Regions from separate parts of the Homo sapiens genome. Here region 1 is linked to region 2. The links come from fine-mapping of genetic effects on gene expression. A gene starts in region 2. The other region holds a variant in brackets. All regions are shown on one strand. Distances are from middle to middle.

Region 1 (5,382 bases), 39 kb after region 2:
GTAGAGAACTTTTAAAATTTTCTCCCAAGTGACATAACTACCTTCCAATCTCAACCATATGGAAATGACTTAGTCTTATATGTTAGCAAGACTTGAGAAAGAATATTATTTTGTATGTTTTCCTGTATTTGACTTTCTCACTATAGATCTCTGCTGCCTCAGGAAATATTTTTGATAGAAATATGTGATATAGTACTTTGTTATTTGGGATTTTTAAATACCTAATTTCAAGTTTCCCAAATAACATCCTAAATATTTATAACTATGTTTTGCCCTAATCTAATTTTTTTAATTATTAGACAATTAGGAAAAACATCTCAAAAAATGCCACAGAACTTTTCACTGTAGGCCCAACATGAGTGCTAATAACTACTACTAGAATTGACTCATGGGTAACACATCTTGTTCTTAAGTTTCTATCACCTGTTTGTGATTGTTTTCTCCATTGTGGTCTTTATACACATGATCAGTCCATTTAGTAAATACTTATCAAACATTTACATGAGAGACATTGTGCTGGGATGATGAAAGTGAATATTAGATTATTATGCTCAAGGAATTTGTAGCATATTGTGTTTATACTGATGTTTTCATGTATCCATATCTGTGTAGTTGAGAATATATTGCTTTGTCAAGTACATTTTTTAAGACATAACATTTGGTGGAGAGGAGTAAAGAGCAAGGGTTATTTCATTACACCTATTTTCAAACTTTTTTTTTTTGAGACCTGAATGTTTTACTTTCAATATGGCACATCAGAAACACAGTCAAACTAATTAGGTGGCCTTGTGCAAATTAAATAGCTGGATGATTGACTGCCTGTTTGACTGAATTTTAGTTAAATTGACTAGATGTTTTGCTCTTGTGTAGACACAGTTACAGCATTACTCGTTAGTATCCTAAGGACACATGCCCTTCATTCTTCAGTCACATTTCTTAGGGTAAAAACGAAAGTTCAGGTCCAATTTCCAGGCTTTAGCTGTAAGAGACTAAGTGAGAGACAACTTTAAAATGGACTCTGAAGCCCTCTGCACCTGTTAAAAGTTCTTTTTAAATACCAGCTTATAAATCATTTTAAGAAGTATCAGTACTTTTGTATTGTCTGCACCCAACTGTTGCATTTCGGCAACATGGTACATTATCTTTAAATTTGGGAACAAAACCAGGTTTGTACTTCTAACAAACCATGAAAAAAACAAATGTTTTAACCTTGGGGCTTCATTGTTTTGACATGACACGTTACCTTCCTTCCCCCAATATACCTTTAACTGTTTCTGCAGGATATTGGAAAGTAGATTTGCAAATTATATAGAAATCCTGACAAAATTTTATTCTGAAGCTGATACTCTGGCTAAGTGAAGAAACCAAATATGTCTTACTATTCCAAGCATTATTTCATGTACAAGATTAAAGAGAGAAGAGCTGCTTAGCCCTTATAAAATGAACAGAAAATTTTCCAATTCTTTTATTTCATATTGTCTCTTAAATGCAATGGGGAGAACCACCCATTTTTGAAAGAGTTCTTCCAAAAGTTAAAAAAATTAGTTGAAAATTGATGTTCTGTTATTTAGGGGGGAAAGACACCTTAAGAGTTTTCTAATGATTTATAAATTTCTTCTATCACTAACAATTTTTATTCCCCAAGAAATTTGATAATTACAGAATTTGATACTCTTTTCCTTGGCATGCTGTGATGGACTTTCGCAATGTTGAAAATTAGTTAATATATTTCAAATCTTGTCTATGGTTTTTAAAGTTCAAAATTTAAACCTGTTACCCAGTGGTATAATACAGCAAGATAGTATTTAGAATCATTTGTGATAATCAGTGAGGTTCTCTGAAAATGGTAAATTGAAAGGGTCACGTAGTGTCATGTACTTTGATAAGTCAGAGTTTAAGGAATAATTTTAAACATTGCCTGTGAAAATACAGCATAAACCTTAGGTGATGCTTTAGTAATAACCTTTGTTCTAATATGTTAAAATTCATTTTCTGGTATTTTCTTTGAAAGTTCTACTTCTCTAGAAATGGCTTTGTATCTTTACATATTGGGCTGTAGGCATTACACTGCCTTTGTCTAGGCAGCTTGGGAACTATACAGTTCAGTGCTGTTGCATTATAAGGATTTCGTTTATTCTTAACTTCCCTGGATCGTCTCTCTGTGAAAGATTTCATGGCAAGTTAAGCTACTCAAAGGAAGGAGACCAATTAGGCAGTTTCAGTTTATGTTATATGTAAAGCAGATGCTTAATAAAATTAAGAATACAATTGAGGCTCTCTTCTCTACCACTTCAGTTGTAACTAATATATTCCTATGCAGAATTAATGCCTCTGACTGTTCATTTTCTAAACAGAGTGGAGAAGAAAAGGGAAGGATCACTGCTGGCCAGGCAAAGCAAGGCAGCAGGCTCACCCTGTGCCTTTCATTTCTTGCAGGGCTTGCTTTCAGAAATCCTCCGAAAGGAAGAGGACCCCAAGACTGCATCCCAGTCTTTGCTGGTAAACCTTCGGGCTATGCAGAATTTCTTGCAGTTACCGGAAGCTGAAAGAGACCGAATATACCAGGACGAAAGGGAAAGGAGCTTGAATGCTGCCTCGGCCATGGGTCCTGCCCC[C/A]CTCATCAGCACACCACCCAGCCGTCCTCCCCAGGTGCGGTCTCCTTTTCCTCCTTGCCCTTCTTTGTTTAGCTTTTTTTTAATGCTTGAGGAAGAATCTCAATAAGAAATTAGATAGATAGATACATAGATTTATATGTTTTTAAATTCGTATAGTTGCTTGAGGAGAATTTGGTCCCAAATCATTAATTCTGATATAAAAACAATAAGCTCCTAATTAGATAGAGGGAAGAAAATTGCTTTGTGTTCCTTCATTCTTTGGGTTATTTGGGGGTGAAAGTAGTCTTTAAATGGGATATTTGTCTCTACTGTTGTTATTAAGTAAAGTATTTTAAACTCAATAGAAAAAGAATAAAGTCAGTTTTTTCCCAACTGGTTTCAGAATCGCCATTTGAATAGTAAATAAATAAAAATAAATAATTTCATTTGTATTTATACTTTCCAGTACGAACTGCAGCTGGTACCAATTACACACCATCTCATTTGTAATCTTTCATAATTAAGTTTAATAAAATCCTTGAAGGCAGCTTTAAATGGGGCTGATAAGGAATTCTATCCATACTCCAAGATACGGGCATGTTTTCTCTTTCTTAAAATTTTTGGACTTTTTAGGAAAGAAAGTTGCCTTCCGGGTAACTTTGGGTATGTGAATCTGTATTGTTTTTTAAACTAAGTTTTAAAAGTAACCTCATAACTGTTATAATTCAGTAAATCAATTTGCATTACAAACCCTTAGATAAAAGTTTGCTAGTTAGTGTATTAGACTCAAAAACCACAAGCAAATATATTATCTTTTTTTTTTTTTCTTTTGAGATGGAGTGCCGCTCTGTCACCCAGGCTGGAGTGCAGTGGCACGATCTTCACTCACTGCAAGCTCTGCCTCCCGGGTTCACGCCATTCTCCTGCCTCAGCCTCCCAAGTAGCTGAGACTACAGGCATCTGCCACCACGCCCAGCTAATTTTTTTGTGTTTTTAGTAGAGACGGGGTTTCACCGTGTTAGTCAGGATGGTCTCCATCTCCTGACCTCATGATCCTCCCACCTCGGCCTCCCAAAGTGCTGGGATTACAGGCCTGAGCCACCGCGCCCGGCTGCAAATGTGTTTTCTTACATGTTTAACTTGTGACATTTACAGCTCTTAAAAATAAGGTCAGTTAAAATTGGATAAAAATTGAACATGGAAGAAAAAGTCGAAATATTCATATGACAATCTCATAGTGAAATTGTATCTCGATTTTACTTCATTCTCATCAATGGTAGAAAGTGGTTATACATTTTCATGTATAGAAATCTAGAAAAAACTCATTCAACACTAAAGAGTGAAAGTACTACGGATACTGCATAAATAAGAAATATTTAGCCACTTGTTGAGTAGCTAAATAAACTGCTTATCATAAGGTTCTGAAACTATTACTTTTTAGAAATGTCACAAAATCCATTTTCACTAGTTTATTTAATGAAAATCAATCTGGTCTTGATGTCTATAGGAACAGACTATAAGGAAATCATTGCTATAATTGTGAATAAAAAAGTCATGCTTCTTTAGGAGAAAAGCATGGCATCTATATACGTATGTACACACCCACCTGCCCACGCACACAAAGTTATTGAATTTGATCTCTAAATGCTTCTATAAAATATTTCCTAAGATAAAGAATGAGGAACTCTTTATGTATAAAAAATATGACTTCTAAGTATGGTTAAAGAGAAAAGATAAACTATGACTTCTAGGAATGATAAAAAAGAAAAAATATACGAAATGAAATAAAATAATTTGGTTTGGTACTTTTTCTGTAGTGTTTAGTGTTAATACACACACTTTTATTAGTTAACTTTGCTCCTGAAGTCACCACTGACAGGGCTCTGAGCAGAGAATTACTTTACTTATCACTTAATCTGCAATACTAATAAAAGAATGGCTTACTTAAGACCAATATGAACTTCAACATTGAACTGCTTTAAAAAAAAAAAAAAACATCTAGCCAGATATTTGACTTTGTGGTTCCTTAATACAGCTTTTGTTTTCTAATTTTTCTAGGACTCTGGTTTTATTTATTTTCCAAATGTGATTTGGGTGTCCTTACTCATCAAGCTTTTTCTTGAGCTAAAGTTATACCAATTCTTATTAAGTGATATTTCTTTTCATATGCTGTTAAGATACTATAGGATAACTTTCCTGTATGTATGCTTAAAGGCTTTATCTGCTGATAAGTTGGGATAGAATATATGTTTAATTTATTTTTGCCTGAATTATTGGTTAACTGGTTGTGCCACCCTTAGCTGTATTTGTTTGTTCTGAAGAGGAGCTGAGACCAAGCCCATAGCTAGGGTATTCAGCCAATGATGAAAATATACAGTATATACATACTGTAGATTCTTAGTGAAACTCTTTCAAATAAAACATTTCTATTACTGCAGTATTACTGGCCATCTAACCAAACTCCAAAATGACTAACTGATATGTGTATGTGTGTGTAATTTTATTTTGCTGCTGCAATATAAATCTTTAAATTATTAATATTATTATAATGGAGATCACTACCAGTTTGTTCACATTCTTCCCTTTAACCATGATTAAATGAATTAAATTTTAAGAAATCTTAAGGTATTAAAGGTATTATCAATGCAAAATTAGTACTTTAGATTTGGAAAAACACGTTATAGAGCACTTGAATTAGTGCTGTCTTGTAGCAGTTGAAATAATGAAATGATGCTTAAACTGGAACCAGTATGCATATTAAAAATGAGTTAAAATAAAGGATAAAATG
Region 2 (5,382 bases):
CCACAGTGTAAGAAATAAATTCCTTTTCTTTATAAATTACCCAATTTCAGGTATTCTGTTATAAGGAACAGAAAACAGACTAAGACAAATTTCTTTCTTTTTTTGTTATTTATTTTTATCTGGCTTTACACTGGCCAATACTCAGTGGCTTATAATGAAATATTCTAAAGGGTAGTTAATATATAGTAATTAATTTCATCAGTGATGTATACCACTAGTACATTAACCTCTATGTGCCATTTTACTTATGTCATTTCTTATAGTTCTGGAATAAAAAATGTGCTTGAGGGAAAGTTTATTGTGCTATATTGTTATTCATTATAATATAGTCATTCTTAGATGCCTTTATGCTCATTTATTCTGTTTATCATTTTCCAAGGCCATGTCAGTCCTTATTACATACTTTCATGTTTTGTGTTTTTGAATAGATTTGTGACTCAGATAAAAGGTGCTATTCAAATTTAAGGATTGCTGTATTAATTCCCATATTATATTAGCATTCACCAGGTCATTAGGAGGGTAAAACATTCAGATGGCATTTTGTCTTATTTATTTCTGTAAAATGATGTAATAAGCATGTTTACAATATTTTATTTCAGTCTATCTTAATATTGATATTTCCCGTGATCTTTGTTTAGTGGTGTTTTCTCTTAGTTTAAATTTTATTTTGCCCAACAGCTTTCTTTTCTTTTATAAAAAACATTCAGCTTGAGGTGACATTGCCTGGCTAAATTACATTTGTGTGTGTGTGGACCACTATAATTTTTCTTTATTTTTAAATGTTGCTATTGTTTGTAAATTTGTACAACAAGGCACTAGAGTGCACAGTCCCTACTGAAAACAAGGCAGGTTTCAGGGAAACATGTCAGGCATTACTAGTTTGAAGCAACTATTAAAGTATCCATATTGGAAATTTCAAATTTAACCTACCATATTTCTATTTCTTATACTTTAGCTAACATATCTTCCTTCAGATTTCCCCACATTTTAACTTTTAAAAATTTACTATCATTTGGGCTTTTTACTAAAAATTTGCCTTAAATTTCTTTTCCTATTTTTGATGCTGTGTTTTCTGTTTATCACATGTTCATTCTTTTGCTCAAGGCTTGGGTTTGTGTGCCAAGATTCACGGTTGCCTTCCCAGATTTGGCTAACCTTTCTGGTTTGTGGGTGAAACGTGGGTGCTATTAGAGTGATATATTTTCATTTTGTTTCTCCTAAACTTACTCTCCCCTAGGAGGCCATCATTTCCTACACTTTTCTGCTTTACCTTTTGGCTTTTCTTTAGATTTGTAATGTAAACAGTGTGCCTAAGAGTGTATTGGTGGCTTTACAGAGCTTAATTTGCAAATTTCCCTTTTATCTCAGTACTTGTGCTAACTTGTTGCTTTTTTATGTGTAACAAAATGTTTATCTGACTGATTTTTCTCTTTTCCCTACCAGCAAATTCTGAAAAATAATTCTTGTTTTTTGTTAATGATTAACTGCCTTCAGGGTGCTAAAATGGTAGAACTAAAACCTAAGCGATAAATGAGGCATTTCTATTTTGGGTTACATTGTAATATTCTTTATTTTTACATGAACTATATTTAATAGATTGTCTAAATAATAGGATCATACTTATGTGGTAATGACCATTTATCTAACTGGGTAACCTACCCTAGATTACAGCAGAAGTGTTTATTGCTACAACAGATGTATTTACCAACCCAAACTTTCCTCTTTTGCCTAGCGTAAATTATTTGAAGAATGATGGCATCTTTTCCTTTATAATAACAAGTCAGGTCTCTTTCAAGTGACCCAAATTTTGTTTAACTCGGCCACGTATTTCTTCTTCCAAAGTATTCTATGGCTCAGAAGTGAGGGCGATTTGAACCAACGTCTGACTAGTACAGAACGCTCTTACTCAGTTCTTTCTAATGTTGGCTCCTCATAGTTTAAGGACCACCCTCCTTAGAGGATAAACATTCCGAGCGTTTCGAGGCTCCTGGCCTTTATTGCTGTACACGTTTCTGCACCCTCCGCGCTTCCCCGGAGAGAACTGCCTTCCGTCTGTACCCCTCCAGCCACTTCCTGATGGCTCCCTACCTCATTCCTCAGCGCCTGTCACCTGCGTACCCGCGCCCTTCTCCCACGGGGCCGGTGCGTCTCCCTGTCCCCCCACCTCGCCTGTCCCTCTGCGACGCTCCAGGCGTACTCCTTTTTGTGGCTTTTGTGGCGTGTGGGTGGTTGGTTAGTTTTCTCCCCTGGCCCTCGCCCCCTCCTCCCCGTCATTTTCCTTCCCCCCGCCCCCCGTGCCCGTCCTGCCCGTCCTGCCCCTCCTCCCTCCCACTCACACACCTGCCCCTGCCGCCCGCGCGCCGCGCGCTCCCCTCCCCGCTCCGGCGGACGCTGCCAGGGAAGCCCCCTCTCCTCCTCCCCTCTGCGCCCTCCCTGGCGCGTCTGGCGGCGGCCGGCGCTAGCCCTCGCACAGCGCCCTGTTATTCTGGGTATTGTGTGTAATAAATGTCGGGCCGCCTCACTCTAATCAAGCTCATTACAAATTCTTGCGCGCCCGGGGCCGGAAATCGTGCGCTCCCCCCATTCCCTCACTCATTCACTAGTTACTTGTCTTTCGGCTTTTTAACTCGCCGCCCCCGCCCCCTCCCCCAATCCCGGCCCTCCAGCCCGGGTTTTAATCCCCATCCCTTTTCCGCCCGCTCCGTGCACCCTGCCCCCCCACGCCGCCTTCCTCCTCGGCTCCGCACCCCCTTCCTCCTCTCCTCCCCCCTCCTCCTCCTCCGCCGCCGCCGCCGCCGCCGCCACTTTCTCGCTCGCTCCCGTTCCCCGGACGCGGCGGATGAGCCGGCCCCGCTGGGGAAGGCTCCGGGCGGCGGCGGGCGGCCGGGAGGAGGCTGCGTGCTCGGGGCTGGGGCTGCGAGCGGGGTGATTTTGTATTAAAATGAGGAGGAGGAAGAAGAGGCACCCACAGCGGCAGCGGCGGCGGCGGCGGCAGCAGCAGCAGGAGCAGCGGCGGAGAGGGCTGCAGCCCGGGCGGACGCGCGGAGCCGAGCGGGGCACGGCGGCGGCAGCGACAGCGGCCGGGATGAGTCAACTAATAATTTAATGGGGGCAGAGACGGCAGCGAGGGGTAGAGCTAGCGAGGGAGAGAGCGAGAGAAGCAGCCCCGTCCGGGGACTCGCGCTCACACTCACGCACACACACAAACACACACACACCTCTCCCTGTGCCACCCAGCAACACCCGGCCTCGTCACAACAACAACAGCCGCGGCCGCCCTCTATCCTGCCCGGGGGCCCAGCCGAAAGCCAGGGCGACTCTAGAGGACGCTGCCCGCCCCCCTCTTTCATTTCGGGAAACTCCTGATCAGTTTTGTCGGGGTTTCTGGGTTTCTTTTCCCCCAAAGTCCTAGTGCCATTGTGGTGCTCGTTGTTTACCTCGGACTCTGGACGAGTGAGAGCTTGGCGACTTTTTGGGGGGAGGGGGCGGGGAGTTTGTCGCTGCCTAGGCGGTGGAGGTGGCTGGGGGTGCCTTCTGATCTTCCTCCTCCTCCCCCTCCCCCCGAACCTCTTCTCTCCTCACTTGCTGGGACCCCAGACGCTCACAGCCCCGCGTCAATGGGCAGGGAGAGGGTCCTTGCGGCTGTTGTCAGCGAGGGCAGAATCAAAAGTGGCATTTTAGTGCCTTTCCGGGGCTTTTCTCGCGACCCCCTGCCCCCCACCCTCGCTGTCCCCCGCTAGATGCCCTCGTTGGGGGTGCGAGGCTGTGGGGAAAAGTTTAAGGTTTGTTAATATTAGTCGCGATTGTTGGCGAGGGGGGTGGGGGTGATTGGAAGGGAGGCGAGGTGGCCTTCCCAATGCGCGTTATTCGGGGTTATTGAAGAATAATATTGCAAGTGACAGCCAGAAGTAGACTTTCTGTCCTCACACCGAAGAACCCGAGTGAGCAGGAGGGAGGGAGAGACGCGAAGAGACCTTTTTTCCTTTTTGGAGACCTTGTCCGCAGTGATTTTTTTTTTTTTAAGAGAATCCTCAGTCACCACGTCGTTTCCCCAGCACCATCACAGTGTACAGCTCATAACGGGTTTTGCTTTGTTTTTACGATTTCCCCCCAACGAATCACTTGTCAGATCAATTTTATCTTCTTCCTCCTCCCTGCTTCCCACTCTCCCCTCCTCCCCATCGCAAACCCTGTTCTCTGAGGTTAGACATTTTACAAACCCCTATATGTTGGTTTTCGAATTGTGATTTTTTTTTTAAACCCCTTTCTCATGGCTACTCTTCTAGACGTTTATTTCTGCCCTTCCCCCGCTTAGGGGGGCGGGGGTAGGGGAAAGGAAAATAATACAATTTCAGGGGAAGTCGCCTTCAGGTCTGCTGCTTTTTTATTTTTTTTTTTTTAATTAAAAAAAAAAAGGACATAGAAAACATCAGTCTTGAACTTCTCTTCAAGAACCCGGGCTGCAAAGGAAATCTCCTTTGTTTTTGTTATTTATGTGCTGTCAAGTTTTGAAGTGGTGAGTTTCAGGTCGGTTTTGCTAATTTCACTCAGTAAAACTGCAGTGTTTCTGTTTCTAGATAGTACTTTGCTTCTTTGTCTCTTTAAAAGGTCACAGTGAAAGCTTGGCCTGGATCGTGCCGGCCATATGGAATGGATAAGGGCACAATCTTAAAATGTGATTATGGGGTTGTGTGGGGGCGAAGGAGGCGATCCAGCTAGAAACTCATTGAAAAGGATCTCGCTTTGCAAAAAATCGGTTCCTAAAAAACTAGAATTTCGAGATTTTCTTTCCTTTTAAAGGAAATAATTGTTGTTACTGAGTTCACTGTTTTATTCAGTAATTATCATATATGGTCTTAGTTTATGGGCAGATAAATGGGATTTTCAGAAAGTAGCTTGCTTTCTGTGTGGCAACCAGACATTGCACTAAAATGGGTTGTAACGTGTAACTCAAAAGAAACTCTTCAGCCTGGCATCTGTTGAGACCATAGTTAGTTCCTGCTGCTGTCATCCAAGCAGGCCTGTTGGAGGTTGCTCTTTTCAATCCCAAACTGAGGTTTGGTGAACTTTAGCCCGGGCATAGAGTTAAAATGAGTAAATTGGGTGTTTTATGCGCATTTAATTTTGGTTTGTAATGTAAAGCTTTTTACACCACGACTTAGTGTTTAATAGATGCTTATAGGTGGGTATTCAAAGGACAGTTTTTCATGACCTATATGATACTTTAGATTGTCAATACATTAAATTATAATGTATCACTTTCATTTGCTGTACAGTTTCTAGTGTTGTTAAGCCTCATGATTACTTAATATGTTTTATAGCATTAACTTTGATGCTGTTGTCTACACCCCCTCCCTTTTTTTCCTCTTAAATTGCCCCAAG

The links.
Region 1: its variant is fine-mapped to the expression of SATB1 in whole blood (INTERVAL, PIP above 0.99).

Annotation. Positions count from the first base shown.
Region 1 is chr3:18,383,666-18,389,047 of GRCh38, reverse strand. It overlaps SATB1 (SATB homeobox 1), which reads left to right. Exons shown (of 11, transcript NM_002971.6): 8 at 2,437-2,649. Among named protein-coding and RNA genes, the nearest start is that of SATB1, 39 kb to the left of the region's middle. The variant C/A (reference allele first, on the strand shown) is at 2,616.
Region 2 is chr3:18,422,761-18,428,142 of GRCh38, reverse strand. It overlaps SATB1 (SATB homeobox 1), which reads left to right and starts at 2,804. Exons shown (of 11, transcript NM_002971.6): 1 at 2,804-4,516.